3 separate regions of the Homo sapiens genome follow, and all the other regions are linked to region 1. Evidence: fine-mapped expression QTL. A gene starts in region 1. Each other region holds a variant in brackets. All regions are shown on one strand. Distances are from middle to middle. Region 1 holds the start of BORCS5 (BLOC-1 related complex subunit 5). Region 2 overlaps BORCS5 (BLOC-1 related complex subunit 5). Region 3 overlaps DUSP16 (dual specificity phosphatase 16).

The links. PIP is the estimated chance that this variant, and not a neighbour inherited with it, causes the effect. A credible set is the group of variants that fine-mapping cannot tell apart.
Region 2: its variant is the best candidate, but not a certain one, in a credible set for the expression of BORCS5 in NK cells (Schmiedel 2018, PIP 0.55).
Region 3: its variant is the best candidate, but not a certain one, in a credible set for the expression of BORCS5 in whole blood (INTERVAL, PIP 0.52).

The regions. Positions count from the first base shown.
Region 1 is chr12:12,354,693-12,358,917 of GRCh38, forward strand. BORCS5 (BLOC-1 related complex subunit 5) reads left to right here and starts at 2,386. Exons shown (of 4, transcript NM_058169.6): 1 at 2,386-2,817. The coding sequence starts at 2,760. LOH12CR2 (loss of heterozygosity on chromosome 12, region 2) reads right to left here and starts at 2,375. Exons shown (of 2, transcript NR_024061.1): 1 at 2,236-2,375; 2 at 716-2,113. RefSeq lists enhancers at 2,171-2,849, 3,736-3,815 and a silencer at 2,716-2,795.
Region 2 is chr12:12,422,832-12,427,056 of GRCh38, forward strand. The region is part of intron 2 of BORCS5 (BLOC-1 related complex subunit 5); the gene reads left to right. Among named protein-coding and RNA genes, the nearest start is that of BORCS5, 68 kb to the left of the region's middle. The variant A/AT (reference allele first, on the strand shown) is at 1,775.
Region 3 is chr12:12,514,918-12,519,142 of GRCh38, forward strand. All of the region lies in intron 3 of DUSP16 (dual specificity phosphatase 16), which reads right to left. Among named protein-coding and RNA genes, the nearest start is that of DUSP16, 46 kb to the right of the region's middle. The variant G/A (reference allele first, on the strand shown) is at 2,115.

The DNA.
Region 1 (4,225 bases):
ATACAATTTACCCTGGTAAAGTGTACTCTACAGTGGTTTTTAATATATTCAGAGTTGTGCATTCATCATTACAATTTTAGAACATTTTCATCAACCCCAGAAAGAAACCCCATACCCAATAATAGTCTACATTTCCCTTCCACCCGTACCCCTCCTCGGCCTTAGGCAACACTAACATATTTCTCTCTCTGTAGTGCTTCTCCTGGACATTTCATATAAATGAAATCTACAATATGTGGTCTTTTGTGATACGCTTTGTTTTTTTTTTTTTTGAGACGGAGTCTTCGCTCTGTCGCCCAGGCTGGAGTGCAGTGGTGCGATCTCTGCTCACTGCAAGCTCCGCCTTCTGGGTTCAAGCGATTCTCCTGCCTCAGCCTCCTGAGTAGCTGGAAATACAGGCGCCCGCCACCACGCCCGGCTAATTTTTTTTGTATTTTTAGTAGAGACAGGATTTCAGTTTGTCAGCCAGGATGGTCTCAATCTCCTGACCCCGTGATCCGCCCGCCTCGGCCTCCCAAAGTGCTGGGATTACAGGCGTGAGCCACCGCACCCGGCCTGACAGGCCTTTTTCATATTGAATAATGTTGTCAAGGTTACTCTATGTTGTAGCATGTATCAGTATGATTTCATCCTTCCCTCATTTTGGCTGAATAAATATTCCATGATTACCACACTTTATTTATCCATTCATCAGTTGATGCGACAGACTATCCTTTTAAGAATGAAATGTTTATTCAAAAGGAAGCATAAAAAACACCATCACATCAGTATGGACTGGTGTATGGAACACAAGACAAATATACTTTTATGTGGAAAAGGGGAAACAAGAACCAGAATGAGTTATTCTCCATTCCTCACCCCTTTTACCTCCTCTCTCACCTTCCCCTCAAAGAGGAAATCTGGGAGGGGATGCAAGGACTCTCCAAAAGGGAATGGTCTCACTGCTTAGTGGGCCCTTCCCAGTCCCATCAGCCTGGTGTGGTTTATGTAAACCTCAAGACTAGTTAGACACAACTTTCTAGAAGCCTGCCCTGATCTCTCAGGCAGTTTTTAGTTCTATCTTCATATTCCCAGAGAACACTGTACTTAGATTCATTTGCATTTTTCTCATTGTATTGCAATGGTGAGCAGAGGAAAGAGCATCAGATAGTCCTAAATAGTTCGACCACTGACCACCTGCTGACCATGGAGGAGTCACCTACTTACAGGCTGCAGGGTTGTTGTGAAAATTAAATAAGGTAAAATAGGGGAAATTATTGTGATATAGTAGAGTGGAAGGGACTTAAAAATCATTTAGTCAACTTGACACTTCTTCTGAGACTTTTTTTTTTTTTTTTTTTTTTGAGACGGAGTCTCGCTCTGTCGCCCAGGCTGGAGTGCAGTGGCGCGATCTCGGCTCACTGCAAGCTCTGCCTCCCGGGTTCACACCATTCTCCTGTCTCAGCCTCCCGAGTAGCTGGGACTACAGGCGCCCACCATCATGCCCGGCTAATTTTTTGTATTTTTTAGTAGAGACGGGGTTTCACCATGTTAGCCAGGATGGTCTTGATCTCCTGACATCGTGATCTACTCGCCTCAGCCTCCCAAAGTGCTGGGATTACAGGCGTGAGCCACCCCGCCTGGCCAGAGACTACATTTTATACATATAAAATCTCAAGGCATTTACTTGAAATTTCTTGACGCAGACAATGTAATATAAAATGAGTTGCAAAGTTCGGAGAACGCTAGAGCCAGCTAACTCCTTGATGGCATTGCATTGCTAGGTCTACTTTCTTGCCCTAGCAAAAATGGCAGTTTCCTTTCTGGATTACTCCCTCCTCACCTTCTGTTAGTTTCAGAGTGACTTGTTGATAACTGCCAAGGTCCCCAGAAAGCGCCTAGCCAAAAAGGTTCTTCACTTCTCTTTAAAGATGTGCACTCCCTAATACATGAAACAGCATTTTCTATTTCTTAATTTTTCTCTCATTTCCAGCTGCTGCTTTCACCGTCTTCTGGTATTTTTTTGTTTGGTCGTCCACTGCTAAACTCCCAGCTCTTCAGAATTCAAAATGAGCTTTGCATCCAAGCTGTTGTGGGTTCGAATCCTGGGTCTATCTAGCGTTTCTTTCTCCATCTGTAAAACAGGGTTAAAAATACCTATTTTGTAAAGTTGTTCTCACATGTGGGTATTGAAGAGCTTAATAGTGTGGGTGGTGTTTTAAAGGTGACGCATCCTTACAACAGGAAAGGGCTTACCCTCTTCCGCAGTTCTGGCTTCGAGGAGGTCAAGCCCTTTAAGGTGGCATCGCCCTAAGTCGCAGGAGCGGGTCTCTCCGCCCCTCCCTCGGGCCGGGGGGCGGGGCCTCCTAATCCGGAACTGAAGGTCTTGCGTAGCCGGCACCGCCCATCTGCGTCCCGGAAGGAGCGAGCTTGCGGAGCGTGAACCAGTGAGTGAAAGCGGCGCCGCCCGCCGGCCGCAGGTGCGGCAAAGCCAGTGTCATCTGCCGGTTCTCTTAGGGCTCCCGGAAAGAAGGAGGGCTAGCCGCGTGCGTTCGCGCCGCGCCTCCTTGCGTTTCTGTTCCCCAAATAGGGCCTCTCCTTCTCCCGCCGCCCAGGCCCCTGCGTGGGCTGGACGCGTCAGCCCCACACATTAGCCTCGCTGCGGCGCCCAGACTCTGCTTTGCCTCCCCGTCCCGGTCCCTGGCCCCTGCCCTGTCGCCCGCCGCCGGAGCGGTGACCGCCCGGCCCGCCGTTCTTCTGCTGCCACCGCTGTCGGCACCATGGGCAGTGAGCAGAGCTCCGAGGCCGAGAGCCGACCCAACGATCTGAACTCCTCAGGTCGGTGTCCTAACCTCCCACCCTCCTCCAGCCCGCCCTGTCCCCTTGCAGAGCGGGCTGCCTCCCAGACTAGGGTCAGGGACTGCGGACGGGAACGCACAGAAAAAGCCTTCACCGTGCTAGTAGGAAAAAAAAAAAGTCACCATCTGTCCTGGCCTCGATTCCCCTGATGGAAGTGCGTGTGACTGCAAGCTAAGCCAGCGTGGGCGCCAGTGCCCTTATTTATTTTCAAAACAGCCGTTTCTCCCAGCTACAGCCTCCTGTTTAAAAGACGAGCTAATTAATTTTTGGCTCTAGTGCTCATGGCTGATGTAGTGAGATTTGGCTCACACAGTGGATGGATTATAGGACCTCTAAGAACAGTCTGTTTCTTAAAAACGGGTGTTAGAGGTTCCTTTTCTGAAGGGATATGTGATAGGTGTCCACTTGCTTTGAACCCTTTAGTGCAAAGGTCTCCAGAAACAGCTTTTTCTTCTCAGAAGGTGTCTTGGTCCGTTTTCTAATCTTGTAGAGGTTGGCCAGACAGCAGGCACTGGTGTTTTCCATTGTTGTTCTCTGTCCATGATTTTTAGACTTCTCTAAGCGTTTGAGACAAGAATGGGAGGATTATTGTGTTTGCAATACAGTGAGTGTTCAATAAATAGATAAAGCAGCTGATGTTTAATTGAGGACCATTTGCTGCTTTTTTTGTTACCCACACGCTAGGACAGCTGGGAGTGCTTTGGTTAAGCTCCGGGGTTGCTAACGCAAATTGGTTAAATCTGGGGCCTAAAAAGAGTCGCCGATTTTAGAAGTTCTCTGTTCTTGATAGGAGCTGTAATTCAGAAATAGGCAAGCTAATAGATCTAAGGGTGTTTCACTTTAAGGTGTGACTTTCAAGACTAGTTCAGACCTACATTCTGGGGACTGGATTGGGGCAGCTTTGAATGGTGAGCAGCATCTACTAGCTTTGCTACGTTTTTCTATTTCCTTGGAAGGGCCAGAGTGTCATATCTGTTATAAGAAATATAATAATTGCCACCTTTGACATTCTTGCCTCTATGGCAGGGCAGAAACATATTTTAGGGGGAAGCGGTGTGGCATCTTTTTAATTTGTTTTCTTGCCCATGAACCAACAGCATTCGAGCATTTCCGATGTTAGAATTTGCCTATTCCCCTGTGCCCGGTACTTTACATACATTTACATATAATTTTTGCAGTAATCCCATTTTACAGATAAAGTAGTAGAGGTTAGCTAGAGTGTTTTGAAGTCCCCTTTCCTCTGGTATCTGGGGAAGGAGGAATCACAATTTATAGCAGGAAAGATTTCTGGCATGGCTTTTGTAAAATGTTAGGTAAATTACCAAAACAGGTAAATAAATATTTCTTGAAAAGAAATAAAAGCAGCAGAGATTTTTCTAGAAGAGTG
Region 2 (4,225 bases), 68 kb after region 1:
ATAAACTAAAGTTACAATAACATTAGCTTTTAGACTAATTTTTTTTAATGTATCAGTCTCTTAACGCAGAAAGCCAAAAGTGGAGCTACAAACCATGGTTACAAAAGAGTTACGAACCATGGTTACAAAAACCCCTGTAAATACATGGGCTTTTTTTTTTTTATTTTTTATTTATTTTTTTATTTTTTGAGATGGAGTCTCACTCTGTCACCTAGGCTGGAGTGCAGTGGCGTGATCTCGACTCACTGCAAGCTCCGCCTCCCGGCTTCACGCCATTCTCCTGCCTCAGCCTCCCAAGTAGCTGGGACTAAAGGCGCCCGCCACCACGCCTGGCTAATTTTTTTGTATTTTTAGTAGAGACGGGGTCCCACCGTGTTAGCCAGGATGGTCTCAATCTCCTGACCTCGTGATCCACCCTCCTTGGCATCCCAAAGTGCTGGGATTACAGGCATGAACAGTACATGGGCTTTTATAATTTGCCATATATTTACCTTTACTGAGATCTTTATTTCTTCACTCAACTCTCTAGTGTGCTTTCATTTCAACCTGCAGGACCCCCTTTAGCATTTCTTGCAGGGCAGGTCTAGTATTAAGAAACTCCCTCAGCTTTTTTTTTTTTTTTTTTTTTTTTTTTTCCTGACTGATACGCTTAATTTCTCCCTCATTTTTGAAGGATAGTTTTACTGGATATAAAATTCTTGGTTGACAGGTTTTTTGTTTTTTGTTTTTTTTTCTTTTAGCAGTTTACCACCTTATGGCCCCCTAGGTTTCTGATGAGAAATCTGTTGATAATCTTATTAAGGTTCCCTTTTATGTGATAAGGTGTTTTTCTTTTGCTGCTTTCAAATTTCTCGTTGTCTTTTTGTTTGTTTTTTGAGACAGAGTCTCAGTCTGTCACCCAGGCTAGAGTGCAGTAGTGCAATCTCAGCTCACTGCAACCTCTGCATCCCAGGCTCAGATGATCCTCCTGCCTTAGCCTCCCAAGTAGCTGGGACTACAGGCATCTGCCACCACGCCTGGCTAATTTTTATATTTTTTTGTAGAGATGGGGTTTTGCCATGTTGCCCAGGCTGGTGTCAAACTCCTGACCTCAAGTGATCTGCCCACCTTGGCCTCCCAAAGTGCTGGGATTACAGGCGTGAGCCAGTGTGCCTGGCCCTTTCTAAAGGTTGATTATAATGTGTCCTGGTGTGGGTCTCTGAATCCTGTTTTGAGTTTGTTGAGCTTCTTGGATGTTTGTATTCATCTCTTTCATCAAATTTGGGATGTTTTTGGCCATTGTTTCTTCAGATGTTTTCTCTCCCTTTCTCTTTCTGTTTTCCTTTTGGGACTCCCACAATGCATACGGTTATCCACTTGATGGTGTCTCATCAATCCCTTAGATCAGTTCACTTTTCCTTAATCTTTTTTCTTTCTGTTCCTCAGACTAGATAGTATTCATTGTACTCATTATTCACTCATTCTTTCTTCTGCCTGCTCAAATCTGCCTTTGAATCCCTGCATTGAATTTTTCGTATCAGTTATTTCAGTTCCAGAACTTATTTTTCATTTCTTTTTAGGTTTTCTGTCTCTTTATTGATATTTTCCATTTGTTTATACATTGTTTTCTTGGCTTTCTCCATGTCTCCTTTAGCTCTTTGAGCATCTTTAAGACAGTTGTTTTAAAGTCTTTGTCTAGTGGATTTGCCATTGTCTTTTTTCAGGGACAGTATCTGTTGGTTTATATTTTTCCTTTGAATGAGCCATACTTTTCTGTTTCTTTGTATGACTGGTG[A/AT]TTTTTTTTTTTTTGAAAATTGGACATTTAAATCCAGTAATATGGTAACTGTGGAAACAGATTCTCCCCCTTCTCTGGGTTTACTGTTTTTTGGGTTTATTTTTGGTATTTTGATTGTTACAGGATGTGTCTGTGCCAAGAATCAGCCAGAGGTATACATGTTAGGTCTCCTCAGATCTTTTCTGAGCCTGTGCTCTTCCCTGGGCATGCATAGCAACTTTCTAATTTCCCCTATATATGTGGTTGCTTTTGAATATCCTGGTCTTTAATGTCCGGGTCCCAGAGAGGGAAAAAGAAAAAAGTGAAGGAGGGTGAAAAAAATGCTGCCCCCTTTAATCCTCTGAAAGTCACTTCAGCGTGAGTGGGAAGACCTTGCAGCAGTGTGGTGGAGGTGCAACAACAGTGATTACCGTCTGTGTCTCTGTCTGCACCTTTGTGATCAGAAGCAGCCAACATTGATCAGAGCATAGATTCATATTTAGAGGACAGGGTCCTTTTCTCCCCTGCTGTCTCCCACAAACTGTGTGCAAGCCACTCCAGGAATAAGTGCGTAGCTGCCTGCAGTGGGGATGGGAGCTTTGAGATGGCTGGTGCTATTATGATGACAGCTGAAATAGACTGAAAGTAATTATAATTCATCATCCAGGCCTTCCTCTGGATGTTGCAAGCCTTCAATAGACTCTAGAGCTACAAAATAGTTACATCAGACAGAGTGCACCAGTGCAATTATTTAGTTGGGAAGATAAATTCCTGGTGCTTCCTACCACAGTCTTCCCCAAATTCCCTTTTTAGTTACTTTTTTTAGGAACCCCCATACTGTTTTCCCCAGCAGGTGCACCATTTTACATTGTCACCAGCAATGCACAAGGGTTCCAAGGATATGGAGAACATCCTTGCCAACACTTGTTATTTTCCATTGTTTGGATAATAGCCATCCTAATGATTAAGTGGTATCTCATTGTGTTTTGTATTTCCCTCATGATTAGTGATGTCGAGCATCCTTCATATGCTTATTGGCTGTTTGTATATCTCCTTTGGAGAAATGCCTATTTAAATCCTTTGCCCAATTGTGTGGTTTGTTGTTTTATCTTTTTAAATTTAGCTCCTTTTCATATTTGCCTTCCTTATAAATAACTCCTGCTTCTTCTGGTAATCTGCTTGAGGAATGAGATCATTTCTTTGCTATTTCCTACAGTGCTAGTACATAGTAGTGTGTGCCTGGTAAACACTTATAGTGGTAGGATAGGCCAGTCATACAGCCAGCTTTTGAAAGCCTGCTTAATTGACTACTACAGTTGGTGACTGGGGACTTTGAGACAGTGAGGAAATTAACACGAATTGTGTGCCTCCTCTTTGCTAGGTGCTGTGGTAGGCATAACTTTATATAGTTCCCATAATACTCCTTTAATATGTCACACTTACAGATGAAGGATTTGAATTAAGGGAAGTTAAATTTAGACTCCCTCAACATCACACAGGTTTTAAATGGCAATCCTTGGATTCCAATTCCGGGTCTACCTGACTCCAAACTTTTTCATTATACCATGTGGTCTCCCTTCCCTAGTCTGGTAAGTTCAAACAGAGAGCAAGCCTGCGAACCTGGAAATTGTTTAGGGCAGATGAGCAGTTGAACATTTACTTAATAGGAGACAGAGAATCGTGCTATATTGCCGAGGCTGGCTTTGAACTTCTAGGCTTAAGCAGTCCTCTCACCTCTGCATACCAAGTAGTTGGTAACTACAGCCTATTCCATTTTACTTAATTATTCAAGAGGAAAAGGTAGAGATTGTGAAATGCTAATTTTATAGCAGTGAACAGGATTCCTCGAAGACACTGAGGTGTGTCGTTTGTGGATACTGATGACCTTTGGAAATACTGTGTCTACTTTTGGGTGTGACATCCTCTGTTCTTGTTTCTTTGGTACCATAAATTAGGGCCACTGGCCATGGCCAAATGGGTGCCTAACACAGAAGGATGAAGTGCTTTTCATTGCTTACCACAAATTCCCTTGAACCCTTTACTTCTCTGAGACTTAAGAAATGCAAGAATAAAGGGAACAGAGTTTTATCAAAATCCTATTGTGTGCTAGGCAAACCCTAGAAGGGACATGATTATTATCTTGCTTTTACATATGAGAAAATTGAGGCTCAAAGATGTAAGATAAATTGTCCAGATTCACACAGCTAATAAATAAGGGAGCTGAATTCAGCTTTTTCCATGCTGCCTCCATTAAAAAGTTCCTCTGTCTTGCCCTCTGGTGGGTTTCGGAGGTCCTGGGAGAAATGTTTGTATCCTCACCAAACATTGTGGTGGGTGGCATCTTACATGGGGCTTGTTCTGCACTTGCAGTTTCTTCTGCCACATGGTTTAACCAGAGCAATGATGACTGCCGTTGCCCCCTCGAGGTTAGCACTCCTCTGAGGTCACAGGGTGGGGATAAATGTTCTGAAG
Region 3 (4,225 bases), 160 kb after region 1:
TGAAGTGTTGGGAATACAGGCATAAGCCACCATGCCTGGCACCTTGTACAATTTCTATACCCAGATTACCTATTGCTCCCAGGAAGTTGGTCTTCTCTACGTTTATGACTTCTCATTACAAGTTCAAAATATAGTTTATCAGACACAAAGGACTTTATTAAAAAGAAAAAATATATAGTTTATTCTGCCAATATTTTCCTATAATTCTAATTATTTAATATACTTAATTATATAAGCTTTCCTGAAATATTCTCAATAGAATTAGATTCTTTTCAAATTATGAGAAACCCAGTTAATTTTTTTAGCCAAATAGGAATTACAGCATTTTTCCCTTCCAAAAGCCCATCCTAGATTATAAAATCATTATTATGATACATTTATGTTACACCCATTTTTTTACTCTATTAATATGCTTTTTTTTTTTTTTGAGATGGAGTTTCATTCTTGTTGCCCAGGCTGAAGTGCAATGGTGCGATCTTGGCTCACCGCAACCTCTACCTCCTGGATTCAAGCAATTCTCCTGCCTCAGCTTCCTGAGCAGCTAGGATTACAGGCATGCGCCACCACACCTGGTTAATTTTGTATTTTTTAGTAGAGACGGGGTTTCTCCACATTGGTCAGGCTGGTTACGAACTCCCAACCTCAGGTGATCCGCCCGCCTCGGCCTCCCAAAGTGCTGGGATTACAGGTGTGAGCCACCGCACCTGGCCAATATGAATTCTTAAGTCTAAATTTCAAGGGGGGTTGTGGGGAAGATATGCAGGTCTTTAAATTGTACTTATTCAATAACCTGACTTCAAAATTGAAAAAAAAAGGAAACAATGGTTTGCCATTACCTACCCATTAATGGTAATAGAGAACTTTTTTTTTCTTTTTGAGACAGAGTCTCACTCTGTTGCCTACACCAGGGTGCAGTGATGCGATCTTGGCTCACTGCAACCTCTGCCTCCCGGGTTCAAGCAATTCTCCTGCCTCAGCCTCCTGAGTAGCTGAGACTACAGGCAGATGCCACCATGCCCGGCTAATTTTTATATTTTTAGTAGAGATGGGGTTTTGCCATGTTGGCCAGGCTGGTCTCGAACTCCTGACCTCAGGTGATCCACCCACCTCGGCCTCCCAAAGTTCTGGGATTACAGGTGTAAGTCACCATGGCCGGGCAGTAATGGAGAACTTTCTAAAGCATCCAAATTTGTTTTTTTTTTAAGATGAGATTGCTACTGATAATTTTGTGTTTTGTTTTTTTAGAGACAGGCTCTCTGTCACCCAGACTGTAGTGCAGTGTTGCAATCACAGCTCACTGTAACCTCGAACTCCTGGGCTCAAGCAATCCTCCCCCATCAGCTTCCCGAGTAGCTGGAAATAGAGGGGTGCACCACCACACCCAGCTGCTACTGATATTAAACCCTTTAATCCACTGGGAGTGAAACAATGCTATGGCTTAGTTTGACTTGGTTAGTAGGTTATTTACTAATGACTAGAGCAATCAATTTACATTTACATTTTTAAAAATACAATAATTATTCTGACTGTTCTCAATTAACATGAATTCAAGGACTTGCGTATTCCTATGAGTGGAGCTAGATTTCTAGGGTTGTTAGCTCTTTATCAAATATCAGTATTTAAGGACCACAGAAAATTAGCACTGTTTCACTACAGCAGCATTTTCATCAGATTTTAATACCATCTTCACATCTGCTTATATGGATGAAGAAAGTTTCATATTAGATATTTTCCCATCGCAGCTATATATTTGCTTTATCAGAATAAATACACCTTCCAAATCACCTATTTTGAAACAATCTGAAGTTTTCTCTACTTTCAGACTTCATCACTGCTTAATATGCTTATATTCTAGACTGATAAATCATAGGAAATATAAACAATATAAAACCTTCAGGTAAGCTAATATCAAAATATTTACTGAAAACTTAAGAAGGGCTAGGCCTTGCGGGAACACAAAGGTAAACAAGACCTGGTCCATATTAAAAAACTAAGCCCACTGCATTCCTGTAGAGGTTCCCCAAATCCCACTTCCTTCTCCTTCAGTAATCCTTCATTTTTCATGACCATGTAAGTAGGTCCTCCAGGTAAGTGTCAGTCTCCTCTTGTTTGAA[G/A]GAAAAGAGCTCGTTAAGATACTGCTATCAATTTCTTGGGAGTCCTCTTGTTCTCCTTATTCACAGTCATTCTTCCGTGGGTAAGGTAGCCCTGAGAGTGTGAGTAGATGTGGGGCCACAATTCCTCACTGCCATAGCTAATGACCATAAAAACCATCTCACATATCTGATGCTTTCTTTTCTCAAGGTGGCTGAAAGTTCTAAACCGATGGAAAAATTATTCCAAGAAACCACTTTGTCTTTCTATTACCATGTCCAAACGAGACTGACAACAATCTCCAACTGTTGAAAGTCACAGGGGCAGTTTGTAGTGAAAATTGTCTCCAGTGACCTTGTAACTTACAGTAGCCCCTGTGAGAAACTAGGGTGCTTTTCAGTTATTTCTCCCCAACCAAAATATTTAAGAAACTTTTGTCAATATGTCCTTCTGTCCCACATCCCTGGCTTGTCCTCTGAGCAGCTGGACCTTTGCAATAAAACAGTTTCCCAAGAATTGATGGCCAAACCTTCTCCAATACTGTTATCCACTTACCCCAATTATCTACCTACCCTGACGAAAAAATTCACTAACCAAGAGAATCCCCAATTGCTTTTGGATGATTGGGAAGGCTTCTAATCATCTAGAACCCTCTCTTAGGTGTCACAAGAAATCCAGCTGCTCAGAAATTCCCAAACAAGCAATTCAGACTCTGAAGTCACCTCCTAAGCTAATAGAAACACAGGATTCTGGAGGTATGGATGAAGATATGGTGCTACTAATACATTTAATGTGGCTCCTGGTGCTGCCTCCATGGACTTGCCGTTAGGCCTAAGAAACACTTCCTGTTTGAAACAGGGATGTCAGGGTGTTCTGACTCAGTGTGTCACACCACGTGTCCCTAGAGTTGACATAGCTAATCAGGCAGTCCTGTTTCTTCCTTATTGCCCAGTGAATGCCCCTCCCAAGGCTACACAGGATAGATTAAGAACCTTCCCAGGTAACAAAGGAATGCTCTTTGGTAAAGGAGTAAAGGGTACAAGTAGCTAAAGCACCTGTGCTAGAAACTCAATGTGAGCTCACTCCTCTGGGGGGCTGTCTACTTGACCGAGATGTTGAGTAAGGTCTCCCCATAGGGTAAAAGTAACTCAAACAAGAACATGGTGGGATAACCACTCTGTCACGAAGCACATCTTGGCATATTGCTTCTTTAAGAAAGACTCTGGCTGGGTGTGGTGGCTCATGCCTGTAATCCCAGCACTTTGGGAGGCCGAGGCAGGCAGATCACCTGAGGTCAAAGTTCGAGACCAGACTGGCCAACATGGTGAAACCCGGTCTCTACTAAAATACAAAAATTAGCCAGGCGTGGTGGCAGGTGCTCAGAATCCCAGCTACTTGGGAGGCTGAGGCAGGAGAATCGCTTGAACCTGGGAAGCAGAGGTTGCAGCAAGCCAAGGTCACACCACCGCACTCTAGCCTGGGCGACAGGGCAAAATTCTGTCTCAAAAAAAAAAAAAGAAAAGAAAAACCCTGATCCCATTAACAGGATTCCAAGGTAAAGTCCCTCACACAGTGGCCACCTGAAACATGAAATGAGTTCCTAAACTCACCCAATTAGTTTAGTGAAATGCTAATAATAGCTGTTACATTTAACACACTCATACTCCCAGTAAAAGAATGTGTCTATCAACAGAGACAGAATCTAATATTATAATTCTCAGTTACAGACTTCTGAAAACTACATTCTAAGACAAGCTGGCTTCACTTAAGAACACTAATTGAAAGATCAGACGGAATCACAGCATAAATGAAAGGTGTACAGATAGACAATCTGAAAAAGATGAACTATCCTTGTTCTTAGAGAACTGAGGAAAAGCTTGTGAGAGAGAACTGGAGACATGGAAATCTTATCTAAACCTGCCCAGAGTTTAAAATTATTAACACACCAACAACTAATTAATCTTAATGTTTTGTTTTTCTTAGACCAAATGTTTAAAAGCACTCTTGCCTATCACTGAAGCTGAATCCGCCCAACACAGCAGCTTTATGTTAAGGTTACTGTGTGTTGTCAAACTATATTCCCAGCTCTATGAGCCCACAGGGCAAGGGAAAGGATTTTCATTTGCAAAACGAG